Linked DNA regions of Homo sapiens: all the other regions are reported to be linked to region 2. The links are microRNA targets in miRTarBase. Many come from high-throughput screens and were not tested one by one. Region 2 holds a microRNA gene; each other region holds the end of a gene's coding sequence.

Region 1 (3,169 bases), not on the chromosome of region 2:
AATGTGGCAAGGTATTCAGGCATAGTTCACATCTTGTAAGTCACCAGAGAATCCACACTGGAGAGAAAAGATACAAATGTATTGAATGTGGCAAAGCCTTTGGGCGGTTGTTTTCCCTCAGCAAACACCAAAGAATTCATTCTGGCAAAAAACCTTATAAATGTAATGAGTGTGGGAAATCTTTTATTTGTCGCTCAGGCCTCACTAAACATCGAATAAGACATACTGGAGAGAGCCTTACAACTAAACTCAATGTGACAAGGCCTTAGACGTTGTCCTAGTTTCTGGAATCACCGAATAATTCCTACTTACTGATATACCTTGTATATTTACCCCTTCTCTTGAAATCCCTGTGGAATTGTAATCTCCAGTATTGGAGGTGGGGCCCATTGGGAGGTGATTGAATCATGGAAGTGGATTTCTCAAACTGAGAAAGATGTAGCGTCATCCCCTTGGTGCTGTCCTGGCAATAGTGACTTCTCTTGAGGTCTGGCTGTTTAGAAGTGCATAGCACTTCCCTGTCGCTTGCCCTCATTCTCACCATGTGAAATACCGACACCCGCTTTGCCTTCCACCATGATTTTAACCTTCCTGAGGCTTCCCTAGAGGGTGATCAGATGCCAGCACCATGTTTTCATTTAAGCCTTCAGAAATATGAGCCAATTAAACTCTTTTCTTTATACATTAGCCAGCCTCAGGTTTTTTTTTGTAGCAATGCAGTTATGACCTAATACATTTACACATGCAGTAAATATACCTAAGTTTTAAGCTAGTATTCACTACTCACTAGGTGTAAGAATTTGTATATATATTCCAGGATGTATACATCCTGGAGAAAAATCACAGAAGTGTAATACGTGTGGCAAGAATTCTACTCAAAAGCCAGAACTTGTAAATCTAGGTAATTAAAAGGGCATAGATGTATGAAATGAAATGAGGGTGGCAAAACCTTTACTAGAGTTCAATCACTACTTGTCATAAGAGAGTTTATACTGAAAGGAAATCATATAAATGTATGTGTCAGAGGCTTTCCCCAGGCATTGGAACTCACTAGGCATCAGAATATACATCTTTGAGAGGAACCACAGAAATGTAATGTGCATGCTAAGGTTTTTACCCGAACATCAAAATGGAAAGAGTATTCATACTAGAGACAACCTTCCAAATAAATGGTTTTAAAAAATGAAATGTTCAAAGACCTGGAATCAACCCAAATGCTTATCAGTGATAGACTGAATAAAGAAAATGTGGTACATATACACCATGGGATACTATGCAGCCATAGAAAGGAATGAGATCATGTCCATTGCAGCGATGTGGATGGAGCTGGAAGCCATTATCCTCAGGAAACTAACACAGGAACAGAAAATCAAACAGCACATGTTCTCACTTAAAAGTGGAAGCTGAACAATGAGAACACATATACCCAGGGAGGGGAGCAACACACACTGGGGCCTGCTGATGGGGGTGGGAAGGGCAGGGAAGTGGAGCATCAGGACAAATAGCTAATGCATTTTTGCCTTAATACCAGGTGATGGGTTGGTAGATGCAGCAAACCACCATGGCACACATTTTCCTATGTAACAAATTTGCAAATTGTGCACATGTACCCAGAACTTAAAGTGAGACAAAACCAATGTCCACGCCTTTGCAGTTTGATTGAACGTATAAAGGAGAAAAATCCTGTAAGTATGCTGAACATGAAAGGACCTGGAAGCAGTAGTGTGTCTTCAGCCTTTACCAAATTATCCCTACTTGAGAGAAAACTTGGAAATGTAATCAATGTGGCACAAATTTCAACCAGTTTTTTAAACAGACTACACATCTTTGAAATCATACTAGGGATAACCAAATCTGCTTCTCCAAGATTGGCCTGGAATATTATTACAGAATAACTACCAGACAACATTTGTTAAAACTCAGGACAGTATGTATTTTAAAGGAGCAAGTGCATGTGTGAAAATGGCTCATTCAGTTTATAAAATATTACATTAAATTTGAGGTTTCTGTTTTTTTTCTTTTGTGACAGTCTTGCTCTGTTCCCCATGCTGTAGTGCAGTGGCACCAGTTCACCTCACTGTAACTTCCACATCCTGGTTTCAAGCAATTTGTGCCTCAGCCTCCCAAGTAGCTGGGATTACAGTCATGCCACCATGTCCAGATAATTTTTATATTTTTTTGTAGAGATGGTGTTTTACCATGTTTGCCAGGCTGATCTCAAGCTCCTGGCCTCAAGTGATTTGCCACCTTGGCCTCACACGTTGCTGAGATTACAGGCATGAGCCACCACACCTGGCCAATGGGGCGTTTCTTAAAATAGCTACTAGACTATGACGTTTATCCTAAGGTTTGAAGTCTATCATCTTCCTTACATATCCTTCATTGTGGTATCTGGGAATGAATCAACAAGATGAGAGAGCCTCCTTCATTCAGTGTGGCTCCTTCATTTCCATGCTTCCTGAAGATTAAGGTCACTGAATTTTAAAATTCAATATTCTGTGAGTTACACACCATGGAGTAACTGGGAGAATAATGTAAGTTTATGATGTAAGTTGTGCTTGTGTTCCAGGTGTCCATGAACACGTAGAGTGCCACTTTGGGTTGTAGAAAATAATTGCACAACCAACTGACTGAAATACCAGTGAGGACATTGATGGAATATTAAGGGTATTCATGAGAGGCAAGTGATAGGTTACTAGGGATGGATTGTGTGGGAGAAATAATGCAGAGGAAATGATGATCATCTCCATTGAATGACAGCTGTTATATAGCAAAGATAAATGTAAAATTAGTCTTATTCTTGGAAGTGGAAGACAGCAGTTATCAGAGAGGAGAATTTAATCAAAAGAATCAGAATAGCATGGTCACAGGCCAGATTCACATTGAAGTATTTACTCTATATTTTACTGCTGTTACATTCAAAATGTATCAGAAGTCTCATGGTTCAATTAATAAAATGTTATTCGTTTTCGTAACTCAGTGACGTTCCTTTCACCAACACAGATTTATCCCACCTTAGTAAAGAACTTCTAACAGACACTGCATTACACTCTGCTGGTTAAAATAATGTGCGACAATTGTTTTCTATGGCGAAATCAAACAACATAGATTTTTGCCCATACCATAGTCCCCCTTTAACCCACAAGATGCCTTCCAAGTGTCCTCTAGT
Region 2 (3,169 bases):
ACAGAGTACACTACGCCAGAAGCAGCACATGCCATAGCACCTGACTGGGCAACAGAGAGAAATGTGACAGCCTGCACCAGTAAGAACACAGGCCAACCTTTCATTCTTGATAAAAAATTATAAAACTCCCACATATACAAAGAACACAGGAAAGAAAGTCATAAACCACTTGGACTCAAAGGAAAAATACCTGACTCATATATTTGTTTCACAATTTAAGCACATATCCCTCATCTCACAGTGGGGACTAAGTGATATGCTTGGCTAGTAGGATTAACATTGCTTCAGAAAACATTTTCCTGGACCAATGTAATCTTTCAAGGTAATTACTAGAAAATAACACTTGTAAATTTCCTTTAAAACTTTATAAGGTATCATAATTTATTTACAGATACAGCAGTATCTAAGTATATCAGGTACTTCAAGAAATACAATGAAAAGGATCATGTTTCTTTTTGGTTTGAAGAACAATTTTTATACAGAGTCTTAAAGCCTGGGAAACTATTGTATCTGTGCACTATGGGACTGATGTTCAAGTGATCTAATATTAACTTAGGAAAGAGTTTTTCCACAGTTACAGGGAGCATAGTAGATGAGAGGTGTGTGAAGGTATGATCCCCCTTGGGTAGCCTGGAGGTTTCTGGGCATTAGTCTCCTAGGGGACCTCTTTCTTCGGCTGCCCTCCAAAGCCTCCTTTGTTTACCATACTGTTCTAGACAAATATTCCCAGCTTCTCTGTGAGCCATATTGAGAAACAGGTTGGGAAGCTCTAGCTTAGGAAACACATTTCCTTTTGGCCCTAGACACACAGAGAAGATCACTACAAGAACCTGATTCAATGTCAGAGTGATATGGTGCAAAGAACAGAGTGAGGAATGAGATTTGGGTTTTGGCACAGGCTTTCTCACTACCTAGCTCTGAGCCCTGAGCAGATCACTTACCTGTCAGGACCTTGACTGCCTCACTATAATGTAAGTGGTTTGGCCTTGATCCTGTTTAAGGACCCATCCTAAACATCACCTAGCCCAGTACAAGGCATATGGTACTCAAGAGACTTAGAAATCCCTAAGTCTCTGAGTACCATATGCCTTGTACTGGGCTAGGGAGAAACTAGACACAGACACTGTCCCTATTCTCATGGAACCTGTAACCTAGCTAGAGGTAAGATCATTAATCAAGATAAATATTGATAAATAAAAATTAAATCTAACTGAAGCGTAATGGATTTGGAAGATAGAATTATCACTGCTTATAAAAACTCAATGTACTTCCTACTGAGCATATAAGTCTATAGGGTAAATCTGCACCACAGAACGAGTCTATGCCCTCTGTTTTTATTTAATCACATAACAATTATTATGTTCAAATATTCAAACATGGGCTTGAAGATTATAAAGTCATGTGAAATCAGCTTCACCTTGGTTGTACCTGGGAGCTCCTGCCTGGCCTACTGATCATTTTCGTTATGACACATTTTAATTAAGTCATTAACAAATGGATGTGGCTGGGCGCGGTGGCTCACACCTGTAATCCCAGGACTTTGGGAGGCTGAGGCAGGCAGATCACAAGATGAGGAGTTCAAGACCAGCTTGGCCAACATGGTGAAACCCTGTCTCTGCTAAAAATACAAAAATTAGCTGAGCATGGTGGCGTGTGCCTGTAATCCCCAGCTACTCAGGAAGCTGAGACAGGAGAATTGCTCGAACCAGGACCCTGGAGGCGAGGCTGCAGTGAACCGAGATCACGCCACTGCACTCCAGCCTGGGCTACAGAGCGACACTCCGTCTAAAAAAAAAGAAAAAAAAAATGGATGCATATTCAGGTAACACCATCAAGGCAAAGAGGAGTGCTAAAAGTCTTCTCTGACACAAAATGTAAATATCCCGCTCAATCAACATTCTTTCTTATCCTTCTAATACTTTCAAGCAGTTGCTCCCACTTCACTTCTTTTTGGACCCACAGAGACCGTCAGCCCCTTACTTCTGTGCTATATCCTTATATAACAGCCCACTCTTATTTTTACTTCTTTTCCTATATAGCACAGGCTCCACGGATCATGACTTCAAACTTTCTCTTATTTATCTTCATCCCTTCTGTTCCCAAGAAGCACTTACCTGCATATATCCACCACATGGGATCAGTCAACACTAGGGTAAAATCACTGCTAGTGGAAAACCACACACTATTCTGGGGCAACTATACCTTCATGGTTGCTAGCATTAAGTGGCTTGATTTGGAAAGGTTTCCCTAAGAGTAAGAGCATTTCGAACTTTCTCTGGTGCACTGTTATCCTAATTATTTTACCCTCTGTAGGCAGGCTAAACCCTCTTTGACAGTGGCAGAAGGCAGGGAGAGAAACTAAGGCTGCAAGCAACCTCAACGGCTGGTAAAACCCAGGCTAGCTCCTAAAATCCATCAAGAGAGCAATCTCTTCCATGCAGCAATGCCTGTGAGTAACATGTGAAATATGGATGAATACTTGCTTTATTTATCTCGGCCATGAACATTCCAGTGAGTATGTAGTTGTGACCATAAACAGCAGGCTACAGCCATTGTCTTAAGGCACCCTCAGAGTACTTCATCTATGACTTAAATCTTTCCCAATTTGTTCTTAGGGGCTGCAGCCAAATCCTAGCTCTCCCACTTAGCTTTCTAACTTTTGGGAAGTTATTTAAACTAACTGTATCTGAGGATAATACCTACCTCATAGAGTTAATGTGGACATTCTATTTCTTACTGTAACAGGACCAGGCCTACAGTGCTATATGTGTTTGTTGCTGTTGTTGTTGTTATTATTAATTATAATCCTGTGTATAAAAGCCACCAAAGTTTCTCACAGTCATAAGAATGTTAAAACAATATTATCTCTTCCTCTTCTTTCTCCAAACATATTGTTGCTGGAGAAATGGTCATGCTACTGAAAGAGCTATATCTGTCTAACCCTAATGACTGAATATATCCTTTCTCTAACAACAAAAGATAATATACAAAATATTCCAAAACCTAAATGACCTCATGCAGAACCTTTTATGTTGCCCATAGTAATTATGTTCCCAAGAGAACAATAAATATCCTTCCTGATGAGGACTGCCCATCATCTTCCACTCTCCCATCACATGCGACCTCATCTTCCCACTGTTAGCCCTGGTTTCTGCCCTAGCATTTCTGC
Region 3 (3,169 bases), not on the chromosome of region 2:
GCCTCGGTGAGTAGGCACTGGGCAGGGCAGGGTGCCCCTGGTGGGGGTGTTAGTGGGTAAGGGAGGACGTATGTGAAAGTGCCTTGCACAGGTTAGGTATTGAACAGATATTTATGCCATTAATAAGGGGAGCATTAGAGCTTTCCAGCAGTCACGGGAGGTTAGGTAATAACCCCAGGAGAAGCCACATTCTCTTTTCTTCCCCTCCCCCAACTTAGAGGGTGGTTGGGGGGCTCTCCATCCTCATTAAAGTTGCTGGGGTACAGAGCTGGTTGTTGGCCTGCATCCCTTAAGCCTGGTTCTCCCCATCTCCAGCGGGTGCTAGCTGCATTGATCGTCGCCTCTGTGGTGGGTCTGGCCGAGCTGTATGTCATGGTGCGGGCAATGGAAGGCGAGCTGGGAGAACTGTAACTGGTGCTTCATCATCAAGTCTAGAGAAGACTTTGGGGGCTTCAGGCTCCAATTGGCAGTCACCGACTCAGTCAACCCATCAGACTTTTTGTATTCAGCTCCAGTTAGTCAGAAGACCAGCCCAGGCCAGCTGCTGTTTCTGTGGGGAGCCCTAATCTTCTGTGAATTTCCAAAGGGAGCATTGGAGGAGATTGAGATAACACATCTTTAAAACAGAAAGAACTGGTCTTGGTCTATCAGTACCTCTTCCTGAATCTGGTACCCATCTGCCTTCTCCAGTTCATTCTAAACACTGCTGGGACTAGGGTTTTTCCATCAGGAGCAAATGGAATCCAGGCCTTCCCAGAAGTAGACCATACTGCCTTGAACTTGTCCATATGTACAAACTGATCACCAGCTTTCTCCATACATTTTTAATGCAGACCTGTAATTGAGTTCAGAAGCCTCCAAGAAAACAGAAAGGATCCCCTTTCTCCAGTTTGTGCTGGAAGAGGAGCTGATCAGAGACATCAAATAAGAGAAAGATGGGTTGCTAGAGGATGGTAGAACTGGAAGCAAGGCAGCTACCTTTTTGCAAAAGGAAATGGTGTTAGGCCCCTTTTCCAGAAGATAAGACAGACTCATAGAGATTAAATGATCACTATGGTCCTTCTTCTGTTAAATGGAGCCAAAGACGCCTATGTTGTTCTGAAGTCTTGTAATGTTTAACTTCTGAGAACTTAGATTAGTGGTGTGATGATAGAGTCTGTATAACGCATTGAAAAGGGTATCAGGCTTAGTTATTTATCCAATAAATATTTATTGTATGCAGGGTATTCCTATTTTAACTCCTGTGACAACACAAAGCATAGCGATTTCCATAGTTCTAACTGTTCAGGGTCTGCTCCTCCTGGTACACTCTTTTTGGTTCACTGTATGTACTCCTGTTGTCTTTTTTTTTTTTTCCAAAGCACTTTTCTGTTTTCATAAATTATATACTCATTCACTCAGTGGACACTTCCTCTACAATGTTTGCCAGTTTCTGTTAGTTGGGAGAAGTGTCAGCTGTGAAAAGAAAAAGTAGGTGGCATTTTACAGTGTTTCCAGTAACCTGAGCTATATAAAATTTGTGTTAAAAAGCTACACTGGGCCAGGTGAGGTGGCTCACACCTGTAATCGTAGCATTTTGGGAGGCTGAGGCAGGCGGATCACTTGAGGTTGGGAGTTTAAGACCAGCATGGCCAATATAGCGAAACCCCATCTTTACTAAAAATACAAAAAAATTAGCCAGGCGTGGTGGTACATGCCTGTAATCCCAGCACTTTGGGAGACCAAGGTGGGAGGATGCTTGAGTTCAGGAGTTTGAGACCAGCCTGGGCAACATGGCAAAAGCCCATCTCTACAAAAAAACGCAGAAATTAGCTGACATGGTAGCGCACGCCTGTAGTCCCAGCTACTCAGGAGGCTAAGGTGGGAGGATCACTTGAGCCTGGGAGGCAGAGGTTGCAGTAAGCTGAGTAAGCCAAGATCATGCTATTGCACTCTAGCCTGGATGACAGAGTGAGACCTTGTCTCAATGAAAAAGCAGGGGGCACTGGGAGGGGAGAACCAAATGCCCTATCCTCCAGTTCTCAGCATATAGAAGGGAGCTCTCTCATCTGCTAGCCACTCCTGCCTCACTGTGCCATGCTTTCTGTAATGCACTCTGGGTCCAGGGACTGCTTGGCAGGAGGTGGGAAGAACAAGAAGTTTAGGGCCTTCCCAGTTTCTTAGGGCCTGTCTGGAGAGGGAACTAGCGTTTACTGAGTTTTTACGATGTGTTACACACCATGTAAAGCCCTTTACCTACATTATTTCTTATACCCCAAACAGAGAGCAAATAAGTATCCCCATTTTTTAGTCACATAGAGTTCCAGAGTTGCCACAGTTACATCGCAAAGTCAGGATTTGAATCCAGTGCAGACCGCAAACACCATGGTTTTCTCTCCAAAGCAGAGCAGCTCCAGAGGTGGAGGTGACTGGAATGTCCTAGATTCAGTGGGACCAGGAGCTGGGGGTGCTAGCAGAGGCTCTCATCTCCCCAGGGTCTTGTCAGTCAGAGTCCTAAACCCTTCAATTAACTATCCCTCTAATCCCAGCTGAAGCCTGGGTAATACCTCCCACCAAGAGGTATCTGTGTGGAACCTGGCCCTATTTAGGGATTAGGTGATGGAGATAAATTTCCATGGCAAACGGCCCTCGTCCCCGTTCGTTTGCAGAGCACAACAATCCAGATTAAGGTACAGAGTTTGGGTTTTATTTGGAGATTAGTTGGTATTACAGGTGATGGTGATACCAAAACCCAATGCTGCTATACCTGCCTCCATCCCAGATCTGTCAGGTTGTCTCCACAGCCCCACATCAGAGGGCATCCAATCTGATCTTTGTGAAAATTAAATCAACATAAGCCCCAGCTTCCTATCTTTGCTTCATTACTTTAATGCCACTCCCTCTTCACATCCGTAGTTCTGATTAATTTGTCCAGGTGGTCGATGGTCAAGAGAGGGGGCCCTGACCCATAAAGAAGTTGGCTCTCCAGCAGTCTAGATGAGGAGCAGCACTCTCCTCTCCTACCTCACTTAGCAGTTAGCAAGGTAATGGCCTGGAGAGACCTCAGGAGACAGGAGCCTGCCCCTTCAGAAGGAGGAGGCCATCAGCTGGTGAGAACTGGGGACCAGGCCTGGCAAGAGTGGAGGAAAACATGACCCTCATCTCATCCTTCTGAAGGTACCACCTGCCA
Region 4 (3,000 bases), not on the chromosome of region 2:
AACTAAAAAATCAAACACTTTACAATTAAGGTACTTCATAGTGAACTATGTCCTTAATTGCCATTATACCCTGAACAGGCTATGAGCAGCAGAGCTTGCACGCTGTTGAACTATTTTTATCGTCTGAACTTGAGTTGTTTGATTCCAATCAGTTTGGTTTGTGGAGACTCATATTAAGGGATGCATTCCAGTTTCTTGGTATTACACTCCTGATAGCCATCCTAAGGTCCCCACTGATGTGTTGTAGTCTTAAGTACACCAATGCAGTCATCCTTTGTACCTCAAATGGTCTCATTACGGTTAGAGTAACAGAAACATGAAGACATACAGAATCCGCTAACTGATTTAACATTGTAAACTGTGAGTTCCATAATGAGGTCAAATAGTGACAGAAGGTAGTGTCAGTGCGTGGGATTTTGGTCAATCTCTCAAAATTAAGGGGCTGAGCAAAATGAGGGACACTGTGAAGCTGAATTAAGTCTGGCCTAAAGCTGCCTCTGTACACAGTGAATTGTAACTTAACGTGTAAACAACTCGTAACCTAACCTAAAAGTATGTTCTTCTAACAAGTAGCCGAATTTTAGCCAATCACAGCAGCCAAACCTTCAGTCAATCGTCGGCTGAAGGCTGCTAAAACATGTTCAGGTAAGGCAAATGCCAGACTGCAGCCAATCAGGCAACCTAAGTTATTTTCGTTTCTCTGGCTATAAATGTAGCCTACACACATTGTGGGGCTGAGCATTCTGAACTGCTTTTGGTGCTAAGTACTAACCAGTTCACGAATCTTTTTTCTGCTCAAAAACAGAACATACTTTTTAAACTTCGTTAAAGTTGTCTAAGGTTTTTTTGCCTTCAAGCCCTGAAGAACAAGGAGTTCATAGAACAAAGGAGAAAAGTCTCTTAGCCTTCCAATGACAAAATGAAAAGCTGCCAGCAAAGTTTCAAAGGCTACTCTGAAACCCAAGTCATTCTTAAAATTTTACATAAAAGCCCATAAATCACTTCTTACTGCAGAAAGTGAACCAGCACTTTCAAGAACAGTGATTCTTCAAATGGCGCCCAAGGGCACAGCAGCCACTATTCCAAAGATCACACTCGCTTCTGGACTTCAGAATTTCCCACCCTCCTTGCGGCTTGTTGAACTGTTTTTATCATAGTTCCTCTTCTTACACTGGTCACGGTGTGGAACTGAGGCATGCTGGGTAAATGTCAAATGAAATGAAGGCACACAATCTCTATTCTCAACTAGACAGCAAATTGAGGTGCACAGCTCCTCTTAAAAAAAAAATCCATTTGTGGTTGTTGATTTAGTGGTCCCTAACAGACAACAGGCTCCTCTTTGCCTGTACCGATAATAAGTGTCAGTACAGAGCCAGTCCTTCAATTGGGCTGATCGCCAAGCACTGGAGAACTATGGAATGTGCACTGATGAGAACTCCAGAAATTCAGTCCAACTTGGCTTTCACTGGGGAAAAATTGGGTCCAGAAAGGCTGAGTGATGTACCCAAGGCCATCCCGTTGGCTGGTCTGCTATTCCTGTCCTTAGGATCACATAATACAATTTTTTTCCATCTTTTTACCTAGATTCACATAAGGGAAATCCTCTCCCAGAGTCATTTCTTATCTACCCAGAAGGAATTTGCACCCTTTCAACATCCTGGGCCAAGTGGTGGCGTTTCAGTTCATGTGAATCCATGTAAAGTACTATGATATCGACGACAGCCTCAAAGCCAGGTGGGAGGAGGAACCCACAACTTTGTCTCCACTGACATCTGTATGTTATCTCATTGTCATTCATGATTCCAGCTATTTTCCTAAGTTCCAAATTTTCTATGACTGTCATCTGGGGTTTTGAAAACAGCACCTAGAAACAGAGCCTAGAACTCTGGCCTGTTCTGCTTATAAATTAATAAATAAAATGCAGTTCTGAGGTCAACACCTAGCTCCAGTTGACTGTCGTCCCAGGGACACAGGCTCCTTCCTTCCCCTGACTTCTGTAAACATGGGCACTGGCACAGTTAGTACGAGAGCAGCAGCTTGTCTCCAGATTAGAGGGGAAAAACCCAGCCTTCACTTTTTCTGTTTGGTGGGTGAATATCAGTTATTCTGTAGTCAAGAGAGGCTGGCAGGCCAGGCCTGGGCTCAGGGAAAGGCAGGGAGGTCTTCAGAAAGCTCCTTGCTAGGATGGCCAGGTTCATCCTAGCACTTCACACTCCCATGGCTGGGAAAGGCATCTCCGAATTAGGAAACCACCTCCCTTTAAAAATAATGGCCCTGGGGTCAGAGAGGCAGAGATTGCACAAGGCCACAAGTCACTTAGGTGGAGCTGGGGCTGGACAATGCAGGACAGGAACAAAGGCTTGCTGTGTCACCACTCAGAAGCTGCCCACATGAGAAGGGCATGACGTCACCAGACTGTTTCTGGACTGGGAGACCTTGAGGCTCTAGGAGTATTTCTGACACCTACACTGGTTCCTCAGGTACCGGGACCTGTAGTGGAGGATTGAGCCCACTGAGCATCTCACTGTACAGGTAAGAGAAGGGAAAGCTGGATCCACATTCCAGCCTGGAATGAGCCAGACACTATCCTCCCCACCCTCTGTCTCACCCACCTCCCTGCTTCGGCTTCACGGCCACCTCACCAGGAAGGCTTCTGCATGGTTCTTGGCCTTGCCCAGGCCCTGCTCTTGAAAGGCAAAGGAGGGGAAAAGGGAAATGCTGCCATGTGGCTCTTGCCCCAGGCCCAGTCTGGCAATGAAGCAGCAGCAGTACAACTATGGTCTTGACAGGCAGGTGGCAAGCAGGAGAGCTCCAGCCTAGGAGAGGAGCTCCAAGAGCAGTTTCCAGATGTGCACGGTGCCAGGCTCTTCAAAGGTGGGTCCTGCAGGGGCAATGCTGGCTGCCAAGAGGAAAACCTCCCGCTGGTTATCGATAGCCTGTAGACCCAGCTCCCGCTGCAGCTCCCCCATACTCATGGCCTCGCTCAGGTCCTGGGTGAGA
Region 5 (3,169 bases), not on the chromosome of region 2:
ACCATGTTGGCCAGGCTGATCTCGAAACTCCTGACCTCAGGTGATCCGCCTACTTCAGCCTCCCAAAGTGCTGGGATTACAGGCGTGAGCCACTGTGCTGGGCCTTGTAGTCCTGCTTTAAAGAAACTTGGTGGGAGAATTCAAATTGCCTCTTGAATAGTGATGTCAACATTATTAGTTCCACATCTGACCATCTTGACTAGAACTGCTGATGAGACATGGCAAAATTTTCTCAAAAGGGAGGTATTTGAACAAATTGAGATATAAAATGAAACACTCCTTAAGATTATGACTTTACCTTTCGGATTTTGGGACATTCTCTAGGGAACTATGTTATTTTGAAGTATCTCTCACAAGAAAGTTGGGTGGGACCAAAAGCCTCTAGAATCATTTGAGAAACAAATGATAGTCCCTTATTCAATCTGAGAGTGAATGGCATGTCCTGCACTTAATGAAATAAAAAATGTGTTTGATCTAGATCTCTTAGCAGTTTAATCCTGCATTCATAACCAAATTTTCCTCTTATTTAAAGAAGCTGGAATAACTGAGAGAACAACAATCACAAGGGCATGTGAAGAAGAATGCCTGCTTCCCCCTCCCTCATTCACTGAACACCTATGTGGCAGGCACTGAGGATTAGCTCCCAGCCTGGATTTGTATTCATCTTTGGACCTTGGCTCCTAGCAGTCACACAGGAGGGATCATATTCTTAAAAAAAAAGGATATTAACTAGGGGATACAGCCTTCCACCAGCTGTTCCCCTACCTCTAAAGCAGGTTTTGCAATCTTTTCTGCACTCCCAGGAAAGAAATATACAACTGGAGATGTGCTGCTGCTGCTGTATAGTTTAAATGGTTTACCTGCATGACAATTACTTTGAAGATAGCTAGGTGAGGGGTTTTTAGGAAAGGAAGTTTATATTTTGAGTGCATACATAGTATATGACAGGTACTGTGTTAAGAAGTTTACCTGTTTTCTCTTATTTAAATTCTACATATTTATTATTCCTATCTGAGCCTCAATTTTCTCATCTAAGAAAATAGGTACAATATCTATCTCAAAAGACTATTATGAGGATTAAAAGGGATTTTAAAAAACACTAATATTTATTGAACATCTACACTGGATTAAGCATTGTGGTTTGTTCCTCCACATACTTTATCTTATTCATTAGCTGCATTTTAAAATGAGGAAAATGAAATTAACCAGAGGTGGCTAAAACTATTTTTCCCCAGTGGAAGAACCTCCGCCAAGAATCCAGAAAACAGGCTGGGGGCAGTGGCTCATGCCTGTAATCACAGCACTTTGGGAGGCCGAGGTGGGCGGATCATTTGAGGCCAGGAGTTTGAGACCAGTCTGGCCAACATGGCGAAACCCTGTCTCTACTAAAATACAAAAATTAGCCGGGGGTGGTAGCATGCCTGTGATCCCAGCTACTTGGGAGGCTGAGGCAGGAGAATCGCTTGAACCCAGGAGATGGAGGTTGCAGTAAGCCAAGATGGTGCTACTGCACTCCAGCCTGGGTGACAGAGCAAGACTGTCACAAAAAAAAAAAAAAAAAAAAAAGAAAAAACAAACAAACCCAGATACAGGCAAGGTTGCAGGGAAAAGGGAACCCTTACATAGTGTTGGTAGGAGTGCAAATTAGTTCAAACATTGTGGAAAGCAGTATGGCAATTCCTCAAAGAGCTAAAAGCAGAACAACCATTTGACCCAGCAATCCTATTATTACTGGGTATATACCTGAAGGAATATAAAGCATTCTACCATAACGACACATGCACACAAATGTTCACTGCAGCACTATTCACAAGAGTAAAGACACGGAATCAACCTAAATGCCCATCAGTGACAGAATGGATAAGGAAAATATGGTACATATACACCATGGAATATTATGCAGCCATAGAAAAGAACAAGATTATGTCTTTTGCGGGAACATGGATGGAGCTGGAGGCTATTATTCTTAGCAAACTAACACAGTAACAGAAAACCAAATACTGCATGTTCTCACTTCTAAGTGGGAGCTAAATGGCAATAACTTATGACTACAAAGAAGGAAACAACAGACACTGGGGTCTACTTGATGGCGGAGGGTGGGAGGAGGAAGAAGAGCATAAAAGATAACTATTGGATACTGAACTTAATACCCGGGTGATGTAATAATATGTACAACAAACCCCTGTGACATGTGTTTGTCTATGTAACAAACCTTCATGTGGGCCCCCAAACCTAAAATTTAAAACAATTTTAAAGAAAGGACTTTCTGATTACATCATCGGTTTGATCAAGATTTGTTTGGTTAAGGGAATTTGAGTTGATACCACCTGACCTGAATTTCACAACTGATCCCAATATAAAATGAGTGTCCTGTTGTAGACCACAGGGAAACACTAAAGCTAATAGGGGAAATCTATAAAATTATTTTGACATTAACATTGAGGGATAAATTTGGACTTAATGTTTCATATTTATTTTCTGACACCAACATTAAAACAAGAGAATGCTCATTCCACAATGAGGAAATTTTCTAATGAATTTTATTATCACCAGCATCTTTAAAAATTAAGAGGAATTCTCTGAGAGTATATATAAAAAAGAAATTAAAGGCAAATATTTTGCTGTTAAGGATTTAAAAATAAACAGAAACATAGAGTATAAAATTTTCATTTCACTGTGCCCTCATTTAAAATTATAAGAATATAAGCAAATAACATCCAATGTCAGAAGAGATTCAGGGTGACCATTTGCAGTATTTAGTGGCAAATTAGTAGCATCATGAAAAATTTCAATTCATTTAAAAAAATAGCTTTCATTTAAATAATAATTACGTTTAGCTTTATCTCTGTATATAATTAGACTTTCTTTTGGCTTAGACAATTCCATTTTCTCCAACTGGGAGCTGTGAAGGATCAAGTCCTACTTTCTTCATTGATACGGCAATATCAAATAAATAGTCATAACACTCACACCTGTAAAAGAAAAAGCAAAAAGAACCAGTGTTTATCGAAACAGAGTTCTCCAATCCTAAAGAATCACATTTCTCCTCTCTTGCAGTTAACTCTGCTTTGTTCCTAGTATGTATTTTCTCTCAATTCTAGGCCAAAATTCTATTTTTCCCTCAACATTTTTAAAACACAGAAAGGAATCATATTAAGTCATGCAACAA

The links. The annotated mature microRNA hsa-miR-3921 reads UCUCUGAGUACCAUAUGCCUUGU and lies in region 2 at 1,071-1,093, shown strand. An mRNA with a match to its seed (bases 2 to 7 or 8) in the 3' UTR can be bound and repressed. Matches are read on the target gene's strand: a 7mer-m8 pairs with bases 2 to 8, a 7mer-A1 pairs with bases 2 to 7 and ends in A, and an 8mer does both.
Region 1: the mRNA of ZNF616 is a reported target of hsa-miR-3921. The part of its 3' UTR that is shown has no 7-base or 8-base seed match.
Region 3: the mRNA of VMA12 is a reported target of hsa-miR-3921. Seed matches in the 3' UTR shown: 7mer-A1 at 912-918.
Region 4: the mRNA of ARL10 is a reported target of hsa-miR-3921. The part of its 3' UTR that is shown has no 7-base or 8-base seed match.
Region 5: the mRNA of APIP is a reported target of hsa-miR-3921. Seed matches in the 3' UTR shown: 8mer at 2,577-2,584.

What each region holds. Positions count from the first base shown.
Region 1 is chr19:52,111,918-52,115,086 of GRCh38, reverse strand. ZNF616 (zinc finger protein 616) reads left to right here. Exons shown (of 4, transcript NM_178523.5): 4 at 1-1,996. The coding sequence ends at 269. Among named protein-coding and RNA genes, the nearest start is that of ZNF841, 18 kb to the right of the region's middle.
Region 2 is chr3:99,962,249-99,965,417 of GRCh38, reverse strand. It overlaps MIR3921 (microRNA 3921), which reads left to right and starts at 1,020; the gene lies at 1,020-1,104. The region is part of intron 1 of CMSS1 (cms1 ribosomal small subunit homolog); the gene reads right to left. All of the region lies in intron 1 of FILIP1L (filamin A interacting protein 1 like), which reads left to right. The region is part of intron 1 of LOC105374010 (a long non-coding RNA gene); the gene reads right to left.
Region 3 is chr17:28,360,842-28,364,010 of GRCh38, forward strand. It overlaps VMA12 (vacuolar ATPase assembly factor VMA12), which reads left to right. Exons shown (of 6, transcript NM_152464.3): 5 at 1-6; 6 at 316-2,842. The coding sequence ends at 411. It overlaps SEBOX (SEBOX homeobox), which reads right to left. Exons shown (of 3, transcript NM_001080837.4): 3 at 2,665-3,169. Among named protein-coding and RNA genes, the nearest start is that of MIR4723, 1.8 kb to the left of the region's middle.
Region 4 is chr5:176,371,712-176,374,711 of GRCh38, reverse strand. It overlaps ARL10 (ARF like GTPase 10), which reads right to left. Exons shown (of 4, transcript NM_173664.6): 4 at 1-2,990. The coding sequence ends at 2,817. Among named protein-coding and RNA genes, the nearest start is that of MIR1271, 5.3 kb to the right of the region's middle.
Region 5 is chr11:34,879,845-34,883,013 of GRCh38, forward strand. It overlaps APIP (APAF1 interacting protein), which reads right to left. Exons shown (of 7, transcript NM_015957.4): 7 at 2,451-2,972. The coding sequence ends at 2,873. Among named protein-coding and RNA genes, the nearest start is that of APIP, 35 kb to the right of the region's middle.